2 separate regions of the Homo sapiens genome follow, and region 2 is linked to region 1. The links come from fine-mapping of genetic effects on gene expression. A gene starts in region 1. The other region holds a variant in brackets. All regions are shown on one strand. Distances are between the middles of the regions.

Region 1 (5,380 bases):
AACACTAATACATAGATCCCAGAAACTCCAAGTGAATAAATGCAGGAAGACCCACACAGACACATCATAGTCAAAATACTGAAAGCCAAAGATAGAGAAAAATCTTGAAAGAAGCAAATGAAAAACAATCTAAATTACTTTGTGCTCATGCACTTCTCTTTTGAACTGGTTATTATATCTGCCTGGTCCTCTCATGAGTAGAATCAAATCTTTAGCACATTTTTATGTCTTCTATCTATTTGAGTAATGATTTTACCTTTTACTGAAAATTATCTTTTAACAACTCTTATCTGCATGTAAGTTCTCACATGTCCCATCAGCTGATGTATACTAAAGTTCAAAGACTCAAGCTCAAAGCTTTAGTTTAAAAAGGAGAAAAAGTTTTTGCCATTGAGCTTAAGAGAATAAAATAAAATAAAACAATAAAAAGGAGAGAAAGGTAGATCTTACCAAACACAAAATTGTGACGATGTTTAAAAAATAATTGGCAGCTGGGCGTGGCGGCTCACATGAAGTGCTCCCAGCACTTTGGGAGGCTGAAGTGGGGTCGCTTGAGACCAGGAGATCAAGACCAGACTGCACGACATAGCAAGACCCCCCCATCTCTACAAAAAAAATTTGCCAGGTGTGGTGGCACCCACCTGTAATCCCAGCTACTTTGGAGGGAGGCTGCCGCAGGAGGATCTTGTGAGCTCAGGAATTCAAGGCTTCAGTGAACTATGATTGCACCACTGCACTCCAGCCTGGATGACAGAAAGAGGCCTTGTCTCAAAAAGCAAAAACAAAATAATTGGAAAGTCAATTTCTCCTAAAACACACACTTCTCTGGATCCCACATTCTGCCCAGGCACATGCTACAGCAGCAGTGGGCTGGAACCTGAGAACCAGGAAACTAGGACTCTGGATTATCCTGCCACACCAGTTGGCCACAAGGTCTTCAAGTTCAACCTGCCTCTAATGTGGCGAGAGGGACAGATTGTCCACAGTAGCTCAGCTTGCACCCAGGAGCTCAGCTGGATCTCCATGCCCTGCGGAAGGCAGCGAGCACTGACAGCCAGTGCCTTCTTCAGAACACAGGGCACGATGAAAGAGATACTCTATTTAGTCACACTAGTACTGTGGGTAAGAACATGCCTTTTCACTGTGCACTTATTTGCATAGCGTTGCAAGCAGGCACCAGGATACAGGAATATAATTGTACATGTCAAGTGCATAAAGGAACTCAGGATAAGGGGCCAGTTAGGACAAAGAGTTATGACTTGATACAGATCAATTCAGAAAATGTTTATAGAGTTAACATATGAGCATCTGTAGGTTAGGCACGGTGAGAGAGAAAGAGAGAGGTTGAGTCAGTACTAACAGAGATGTTTCTCCTTGCCACCATGACTTGAAACAGTGCTGTGAGTTGCAGTGTACAGTAGGGGATAAAGGAAACCATCAGTCGTCTGTATTACCCTCAGCTGCTCAGACGTATGTTCCTGCCTTTTTCGTCCTCCTTGAGGAAGGTGGTTTAATCATTTATCGGTGCGTGCCATGGGTGAAGGCCAAGAGCCTTGTGTACAGAACTGAAAACTGTACGTTAGGAGAAATGCCCACCGCCAGGTGTGAACAGTGAGCCCAGGCTCCAAAACCTCTCCCACAGTTCAACACCCTGGACAATATTTTTATAAAATTACTAACTCACAGTACTTTATGGAGGGCTGCTTCTCTGAATTTTTAAAGTTTTCTACAAATGGTCTTGATGTTTTTCCTCTGAGGTGTACTTTTTTTTCCCAAGAATTATGTGGGTTTTGTTTTGCATTGCTTTGATCAAGGTAGAGTTAATGATTTCTCGTAGGTGCTACTAAGCAGTGGATACGAATGCAATCGGCCAGGCACGGTGGCTCACACCTGTAATCCTAGCACTTTGGGAGGCCGAGGCAGGTGGATCATGAGGTCAGAAGATCGAGACCATCCTGGCCAGCATGGTGAAACCCCGTCTCCACTAAAAATACAAAAATTAGCCGGGTGTGGTGTTGGGTGCCTGTAGTCCCAGCTACTCAGGAGGCTGAGGCAGGAGAATCACTTGAGCCCGGGAGGCGGAGGTTGCAGTGAGCCAAGATTGCGCCACTGCACTCCAGGCTGGCAACGAGTGAGAATGTCTCAAAAAAAAAAAAGAAAGAAAAATGCAATCATGGCTGGGCATGGTGGCCGATGCCTGTAATCCCAGCACTTTGGGAGGCTGAGGTGGGAGGATCACTTAAGTCCAGGAGTTTGAGACCAGCCTGGGCAACATACTGAGACCCATCTCTATTTCTTAAAAAAAGAATGCAATCTCTAGGTCAGTTGGATCTGGACCCCAAGCCAGTGGCTCACCATGTGCTCTTGGGCTGGCAGCTTGTTCTTGGAGGCCATTTCCTCCTCTGTCAAATGGAGGTGATGACAGTACCCAGCCCCTAGAGTGGCTGTGAGGGTTCCATGAGTGCCTGTGAAGACTCCCCACTGCCCAGCTCAGAGTGAGCCCTCATACGTGCTGGTCATTGTTGTAATGGTCATGATTTCAGAAGAGAAACAGAGAAGGTTGAGCTAAAGTGTTGAACATGTGTGTTGGGTGCCTACCACAAACAAAGCCCTGTGCATGGTGGCCTCAAGGTGTCTTCATGATAATCCCAAAAGGAAGATAACTGCTTTTTTCCATTTATATGGCGGCAGATGGGTTAAGTAACCTGACCAAGATGAGACTGCATATAATGTGGTTATATTTCTCATAAAGCTTGACTTTCAGATATTGGCTTCAAAGACAAAAAAGGAAGGTAAACATGTTTGAACACAAGGAGTTTCCCTTCCTTTAAGCCACGCCAGCTTATAAGCCTTCATACAGCAGTGAAGGCGGTTCCTCCCTTCCCAGGCAGAGACTGATAAACTCAGCACTTGCCGGAGTGGCTCATTGTTAAGACAAAGGGTGTGCACTTCCTGGCCAGGAAACCTGAGCGGTGAGACTCCCAGCTGCCTACATCAAGGCCCCAGGACATGCAGAACCTTCCTCTAGAACCCGACCCACCACCATGAGGTCCTGCCTGTGGAGATGCAGGCACCTGAGCCAAGGCGTCCAGTGGTCCTTGCTTCTGGCTGTCCTGGTCTTCTTTCTCTTCGCCTTGCCCTCTTTTATTAAGGAGCCTCAAACAAAGCCTTCCAGGTAAGATTCTTGTCCTTTCCACTCCTCATATTTCATTCATTTGAGGAAACAGAAAAATGATAGCCCAGGGAGGACTGGGGAAGTCTGAGCCACCTGTGTGTCCACATGGGAGTGTCAGGGGTCAGGAGTGTTCTCAAGAAGCACTGGGAAGAAAGACTAATGGGAAGACTTGCAGGGAACAGAAAGGGTGGCAGTGGGCAACCAAGACGCATGGGATGGACATGTCCAGATACTGTGGGACACGTACAGGAGTTTGAGAACTGATGGGTTAGGTCTGCAGAGTGCAGACAGAAGACATGACTGCTTTCCCCTCTGGGACTGTGAGTAATGGCAGCAGCACTGGGTTAGTTCTTACATGCCATTCTCTACGTCCTGAAGCGAAAGAGCCATGCTGTGTGTTCCACTTGTTTCAGACCCGGACTCACCCTAAGTTTGTCAGTTAAAATGGAGAGCCTCCCTCTTAGGGATGCAGTTTCAATTGTGGACGCCAAGTTAATCCTTCAAAAATACCTTCTAGACCATTTTTCTTAGAAAATACACACATCTCCAGCAGTGAGAGGCCCTCTTTTTTTTTTTTTTTTTTTTGAGACGGAGTCTCACTCTGCTGCCGGAGTGCTGGAGTGCAGTGGCATGATCTCAGCTCACTGCAACCTCCACCTCCCAGGTTCAAGCCTCAGCTTCCTGAGTAGCTGGGACTACAGGCGCATGCCACCAGGCCTGGCTAAGTTTTTGTATTTTTAGTAGAGACAGGTTTTCACCATGTTGGCCAGGCTGGTCTTGAACTCCCGACCTCAAGTGATCTACCCACCTCGGCCTCCCAAAGCGCTGGGATGACAGGCGTGAGCCACTGCGCCCAGCCAATAATTTCATTTCACTGTTCCTAAACGTTGAAAGTAATGCAGGTTCTCATAGAGTTAAAAAAAATACAGAAAGGTGAAGCAGGAAGTGAGGGTCTCCCTATTATACCTCCACCTCTATCCACTCTTCAAGGTGACCACTCTTGACACTTGAGGGTACACGGAATTCTATTATTATGTAGCTAACACTGCTATAGTATTTACTATGAGCTAGCCCCTATTCTAAGTGCTTGATATACGTTAACTCACTAATTCTCATTATTAGGACACTGAGATACACAGAACTGAAGTGATTCTCCCAAGGTCACCCTGCTAGTATGCGGCAGGGCCAAGATTCAAACCCAGGCATTTTGGTGCCATACCCTGTGCTCATTACCTTTATGCTATACAAGCCCGATAGATAGATGATAGATAGATAGATAGATAGATAGGCAGATAGAGAGAGAGAGAGATAGAGAGATAGGCAGATAGATGGACAGATAGATGGATAGATAGATGGAGATATAGATATCTATATATAGTATGGAGATATATATACAATATATACGCTATATATTGATATACTATATGTCAATATGTAGCATGAGAGATATGTATATATAGATATATTGTATATATAGATATAGATATATACACATATATATCATATAGATTTACATATATATGCACAAGAGAGCTTATATATATATCTCATATATACGTATATATACATATATATGTATCTCATGCTACATATTGTTCCACAGGTTGACCTTGTAAGTCACACTATATCATGGACATCTTTCCATGTCGGGACATACAGGTCCACTCCCTTCTTTCAACAGTTGCTTAGCATTCCACAGGGTAGGTACTGTTTACTTAACCAACCCCTATCAAGTTTCTCACATACCTTTGAGCACTTGCGTAAGTGATTTCCGGGTAGATTTCTTGAAGTGGAATTGCCAAGACAATGCATATGTTTACATGAAATGTCAGTGGACACCATTGAATTGTTGTCTCAGAATGCTACACTGACAGGTGCAAGTTTACTTTACCTCCCAGGACCACACTGGCTTTCATTAGGGTTTTGAAGTCTTAATCATCAGATAGGTGAAAGTGTTTCTCTTTTTAATTTGCATTTCTCAGATCACTGATGTATTGAGAATCTTAACTTTCTTAGTCATTTGTACTTTTCTATGAATGACCTGTTCATATCTTTTCTTCCTTTTTATTATTTTTTTCATATTTGTAGGAGCTTTTTGTATATTAGGGATATTAACCTTTTTATCATATATGTTACAATACTTCTAAATGCAGTGGGATAATTTAGGAATCAGAGAGACTGAAGGGTTGAGGAGGATTTATTATC
Region 2 (5,380 bases), 48 kb before region 1:
TCTCAGGCAGGGAAAGGCAGGGTGGAATGGCCTCAGGACAAGCACATGGTAGGGGAGGGGGCTCTCCAACGAGTCTCTCCACCCGGGCCCACTCTAGGCAGCTCACTGCTCTGGTCCCAGAGGGTCCTTGTCCCCCAAGCAGAAATTGGGCTCCTGGGCCTATGCCCCCGCCCATCCAGATAAGTAGATGGAAGGGGGAGGGTTTGACCGCCCCAACTGGGGCCACGGGATTCAAGGGACAACTTCCAAAAGAACAGGGGATTTCTGCACAGACAACAAAATAAATGGCCAATTGAGCAGTGTTTTCAAGCTTTTTTTAATTAGGTGTCACAATAAGAAAGAAATTTTAAATTACATCCTGTATATAAAGTCACACAGCTACACCAGAAGTTTTTTGTTGTGTTGTTGTTTTGTTTTCTTTTGTTTGAGACAGGCTTTCACTCTTTCACCTAGGCTGGAGTGTAGTGGTGTGATCTCGGCTCACTGCAGCCTTGACCTCCTGGGCTCAAGTGATCCTCCCACCTCAGCCTCAGCTGGGACTACAGGCACATCCCACCATGCCCAGCTAATTTTTGTAATTTTTTTGTAGAAATGAGGTTTGACATGTTGCCCAGGGCGGTCTCAAACTCCTGGGCTCAAGCAGTCCACTTGCCTCAGCCTCCCAAAGTGCTGGGATTACAGGCGTGAGCCACCTCACCTGGCCCCAGAAGTTTTATAAACCAGTATCTAACTCTACCACACACAAAACACTGTTTGTCTTTAATTTCTTTTTCTTTTTTTTTTTTTTTTTTGAGACAGATCTCAAAAAAAAATCCAGTCTGTTGCCCAGGCTGGATTGCAGTGGCGTGATCTCAGCTCATTGCAACTTCCGCCTCCCAGGGTCCAACGATTCTCCTGCCTCAGCCTCCCAAGTAGCTGAAGCAGTCGTGCACCACCACACCCAACTAATTTTTGTATTTTTAGTAGAGACGGGATTTCCCCATGTTGGCCAGACTGGTCTCGAACTAATGACCTCGTGATCCATCCGCCTCGGCCTCCCAAAGTGCTGGGATTACAGGCATGAGCCACCGCGCCCAGCCTTGTCTTTTATTTCATTCTGGGATACAGGGGTGTCCCCAGAGTCTTAGTGCAGTTTTAATAAATAACTTCAGATGTTTAAATGTACAAACCTACAAAACATCAGTTGAATATTTACTTATTTAAATTTCTTTTCCACTTAGTTTCCTGACAGTCAAGTGCTAGATTTTTTCATTTTAATTCTCCGCATGTGCTAGTGTCTGGAGGGACAGGCAGGCAAAGGACCCCTTTCCTGGGCTGAATTGACCTCCCTTGAGGTCACGTGTGCACAAAATCCAGTTCTTTGGAACCTGGTGAAGCTGGAATCACCAGTGCAATCTTTTCCCGTCACTGACCAACAGTCGATAAAAGGTTTTTCGAAGTTTGAACAACTAGAGCCATGTATAGCACTAGAGGGGGTACTGTAAGAATCTGAGTGAGAGATATCAAGGTATTTTAAATGTAAATAACCTTTCAAATGTCATTTTTTGGTACATTTGTAGTATCTATACTTCTGAAGTTATTAAAGCCTCAAACTTCACCAAGACTTTGGTCGCCCATTTTTTTTTTTTTTTAACAATACTAGTAAGGCCTTCTCATTTGCTTTCCTGACCCATCAATGGGTCATGACCACAGCTTTTTAAAAATCAGACTTCCAGGCCGGGCGCGGTGGCCCACACCTGTAATCCCAGCAGTTTGGGAGGCCGAGACGGGCGGATCACCTGAGGTCGGGAGTTCGAGACCAGCCTGACCAACATGGAGAAACCCCATCTCTACTAAAAATACAAAATTAGCCAGGTGTGGTGGCACATGCCCATAGTCCCAGCTACTCGGGAGGCTGAGGCAGGAGAGTCGCTTGAACCTGGGAGGTGGAGGCTGCAGTGAGGCAAGATCGTACCATTGCACTCCAACCTGGGCAACAAGAGTGAAACTGTCTCAAAAAAAAAAAAAGAAAAAATCAGACTTCCAAAGTCAAGTACAATTTTTTTTTTCTTTTGGTGACAGGGTCTTACTCTTGCCCAGGCTGGAATGCAGTGGCACCCCCATGGCTTACTACAGCCTCAACCTCTTGGGCTCAAGCGACGCACCTGCCTCGGCCTCCCAATGTGCTGTGATTACAGGTGTGAGCCACTGTGCCTGGCCCAGAATCTAAATGTGTACCAGCCTCTCTGTGCTCAGGAGGGCTTGGGCACGTCAGCTGATACTGGGTCCTTTGGGGATACGGATCTGCCCTGGCTCATGGACTCCTCGCCCTGGAGTGCAATTATTTGTTTGTCTTTCCTACTGGACCACGAGCTCCGTAAGGCAGGGACTGTGCTCATTGTTGCTGTTGTTTTTCATTTAATCTTTGTGTCCTTTGCACATAATAGGAGAACTGGCCTCCTGTCTATTCTTGATATTGGGCTTAGTTCCGGGGCCGTGCCCTGAATAGGTCAGTGACTGTTTGCCTGTCATTAAAGAGAGACATCAACCATGAGAAAAACCAACTGTTTTTCTGTCCATGCACACAACACT[C/A]CACAGAACCCTTCACTTCTGATACCAAATATGCAGCCAGCCCCACCCCTGCAACCAACACCTTCTCCAGCCACCCAGACACCAAGTGGGTGTCCTCCCGTTCAACTCTGACATTAACTGCCTGGAATCAGTGCAGACCCCACAGGTTAGGGCCCAGTCCCACAGACTGCCCCCTACTTCAGGGGCCAATCACAAGTATCAGGTCCCCTCGTTCCCCACACTTTGGTCCTACTTGCCTACAAATCAAGGGTTCCATGAACCCCTCCTCAAGTTGAGTAATTTGCTACAGCGTCTTACGGAGCTCAGGGAAGCACTTATGTTAACTGGTTTATTAGAAAGGAAGTGATAAAGGCTACAGATGAACAGCCAGATGGAGGTACCTAAGTAGAGTAAGGTCCAGTAGGGTCCTGAATGCAGGAGCTTCCGTCCCCATGGAGTTGGGGTACGCTACCCCCTGCGCACGGGAATGCATTCAGCAGCCTGGAAGCTCTCCAAACCCTATCGGGATGTTGACGGAGGCCTCATCACATAGGCGTCATCGATTCTTAACTCAATCTCCAGCTCCTCTCCAGTCTCTGGAGGAAGCTGGGGGGTGGTGGGGCTGAAAGTTCCAAGCTCCTCATTGCAGCTTGATCTCTCTGGTGATCAGCCCACCCAGGAGTTACCTCATTAGAACAAAAGACACTCCTGTCACCCGGGAAATTCCAACGGACTTAGGAGCTCTGTGCCAGGGACTGGGATCAAAACCAAATGTTAGAACAAAACATGCTGCTAGCACCCCTGTAACTTAGGAAATTCAAGGGACTTAGGAGCTCAGTGTCAGGGCTGGGCATGGTGGCATGCACCTGTGATCCCAGCTATTCCAGAGGCTGAGGCAGGAGGATCGCTTGAGCCCTGGAGGTCAAGACTGCAGTGAGCCGTGATTGCACCACTGCACTCCAGTCTGGGCAACAGAGCAAGATCCTGTCTCAAAAAACAAACAAAATAAAAACTGTGTCAAGAACTGGGGGCCGAAACCAAATATATATATATTTAGGATGTTACATTCTTTCTACTTTTTTTTTTCCAAGTGATCCTTCTGCCTCAGCCTTCTAAGTAGGTGGGATCACAGGTGCGTGCCACCATGCACAGCTAATTTTTAAATTTTCAGTAGAGGCGAGGTGTGCACTATGTTGCCAGGCTGGTCTTGAACTTCTGGGCTCAAGCAGCCCTCCCACCTCAGCCTCCCAAAGTGCTGAGATTGCAGGCATGAGCCACCACACCTGGCCTCTTACTTTTTTTTTCTTTTTTAGAATATATAAGAAAATAAATAAAGAAAAAATGGGGTCTTTGGATCTGACTGTCCAAAGACACCATTAGCATTTAAAAAATATATTTAGTCATTCATGCATATTAATGGAAAGTCCAAATTATACTGAACTCTATAAGACGGAAAGGAAAAGCTGCCCCCCAAGCTCCTTTCCCAAGAGGTAGCCACTGCTGACAGTTTCTCGTGGGCCCTTCCAAAAAACAAACCTTTTCTCTGCATTTTCGAGCACATGCGTGCATTTCCACTTTGCCATTTACAGCAAGATGACTGCGCTGCTCACGTGGGGCTGCTGCTTGCATTTTTCCCTCGATTTATCTTGATGTACTTTTCATGTCAGCACCTATCAACGCCTCCTTTTTTTTTTTTTTTCTTTTTTTAAGATGCAGTCTTGCTGTGTCACTAGGCTGGAGTGCAATGGCGCAATCTTGGCTTACTGCAACCTCCACCTCCCGGGTTCAAGCGATTCTCCTGCCTCAACCTCCTGAGTAGCTGGGATTAAAGGCACCTGCCACAACACTCGGCTAATTTTTTTTTGTATTTTTAGTAGAGACGGGGTTTTGCCATGTTGGCCAGGCTGGTCTCGAATTCCCAACCTCAGCTGATCCACCCACCTAGGCCTCCCAAAATTCTGGGATTACAGGCGTGAGCGACCGCACCCGGTCCCCAGTTCTGTCTTTTCAACTGCACGCGGTCAGAGTCATTATATAAAAATCCTGATGGACATTTCTCCAGTCTGGAGCAGATCCCTAGAAGTGGGTTTGCTGTGTCAAATGGAGCGGCTCCTCTTCCTGCCCCCGGAAGAGGCCTGCCCACTCCGACCTCAGCCATAGAGATACTTTGCTGTGCAAAATTTGGGAAACGTCAGGACACACAGGCACCACTTCGCCATAGATAGCACTAAGTCTGTGTGTACAAAGTGCCCAACAGGGAAGACGCTGTGTTGCCTGCGCAGCTCCCCCCAGGCAGCATTTTGTGTAGTCAAGGAAGTCCCTCAGGCCAGGCACAGTGGCTCACTCCTGTAATCCCAACACTCTGGGAGGCCGAGGCAGGCGGATCACCTGAGGTCAGGGGTTCGAGACCAGCCCGGCCAACATGGTGACATGCCATCTCTACTGAAAACACAAAAAAATTAGCTGGGCTTGGGTGGCGGGCGCCCGTAATCCCAGCTACTCGGGAGGCTGAGGCAGGAGAATCGCTTAAACCCAGGAGGCAGACGTTGCAGTGAGCCGAGATCGCGCCACTGCACGCCAGCCTGGGCAACAAGAGCCAAAACTCTGTCTCAGAAACACACTCAGAAAAAAACAGAAACCAAACAAACAAAAAGTCACTCAGAGGAGCTCAAGGCCCCTCTGGGTTTGCCACTTCCGACCCGCTGTGGGGCTTGTAAAAACTTTGCCTCCCGGCACAGCTCAGTGTTTTGTTAGGGAGCCTCCCGTGAGCGGCCGACGCTGGCTGGGCTCCATGGGATCAGCTGGGGCTGCTCATTCATTCATTTCCACA

Evidence for each region. PIP is the estimated chance that this variant, and not a neighbour inherited with it, causes the effect.
Region 2: its variant is the best candidate, but not a certain one, in a credible set for the expression of ST6GALNAC1 in whole blood (INTERVAL, PIP 0.85).

What each region holds. Positions count from the first base shown.
Region 1 is chr17:76,641,303-76,646,682 of GRCh38, reverse strand. ST6GALNAC1 (ST6 N-acetylgalactosaminide alpha-2,6-sialyltransferase 1) reads left to right here and starts at 2,926. Exons shown (of 9, transcript NM_018414.5): 1 at 2,926-3,175. The coding sequence starts at 3,045.
Region 2 is chr17:76,688,887-76,694,266 of GRCh38, reverse strand. All of the region lies in intron 1 of MXRA7 (matrix remodeling associated 7), which reads left to right. Among named protein-coding and RNA genes, the nearest start is that of MXRA7, 19 kb to the left of the region's middle. The variant C/A (reference allele first, on the strand shown) is at 2,572.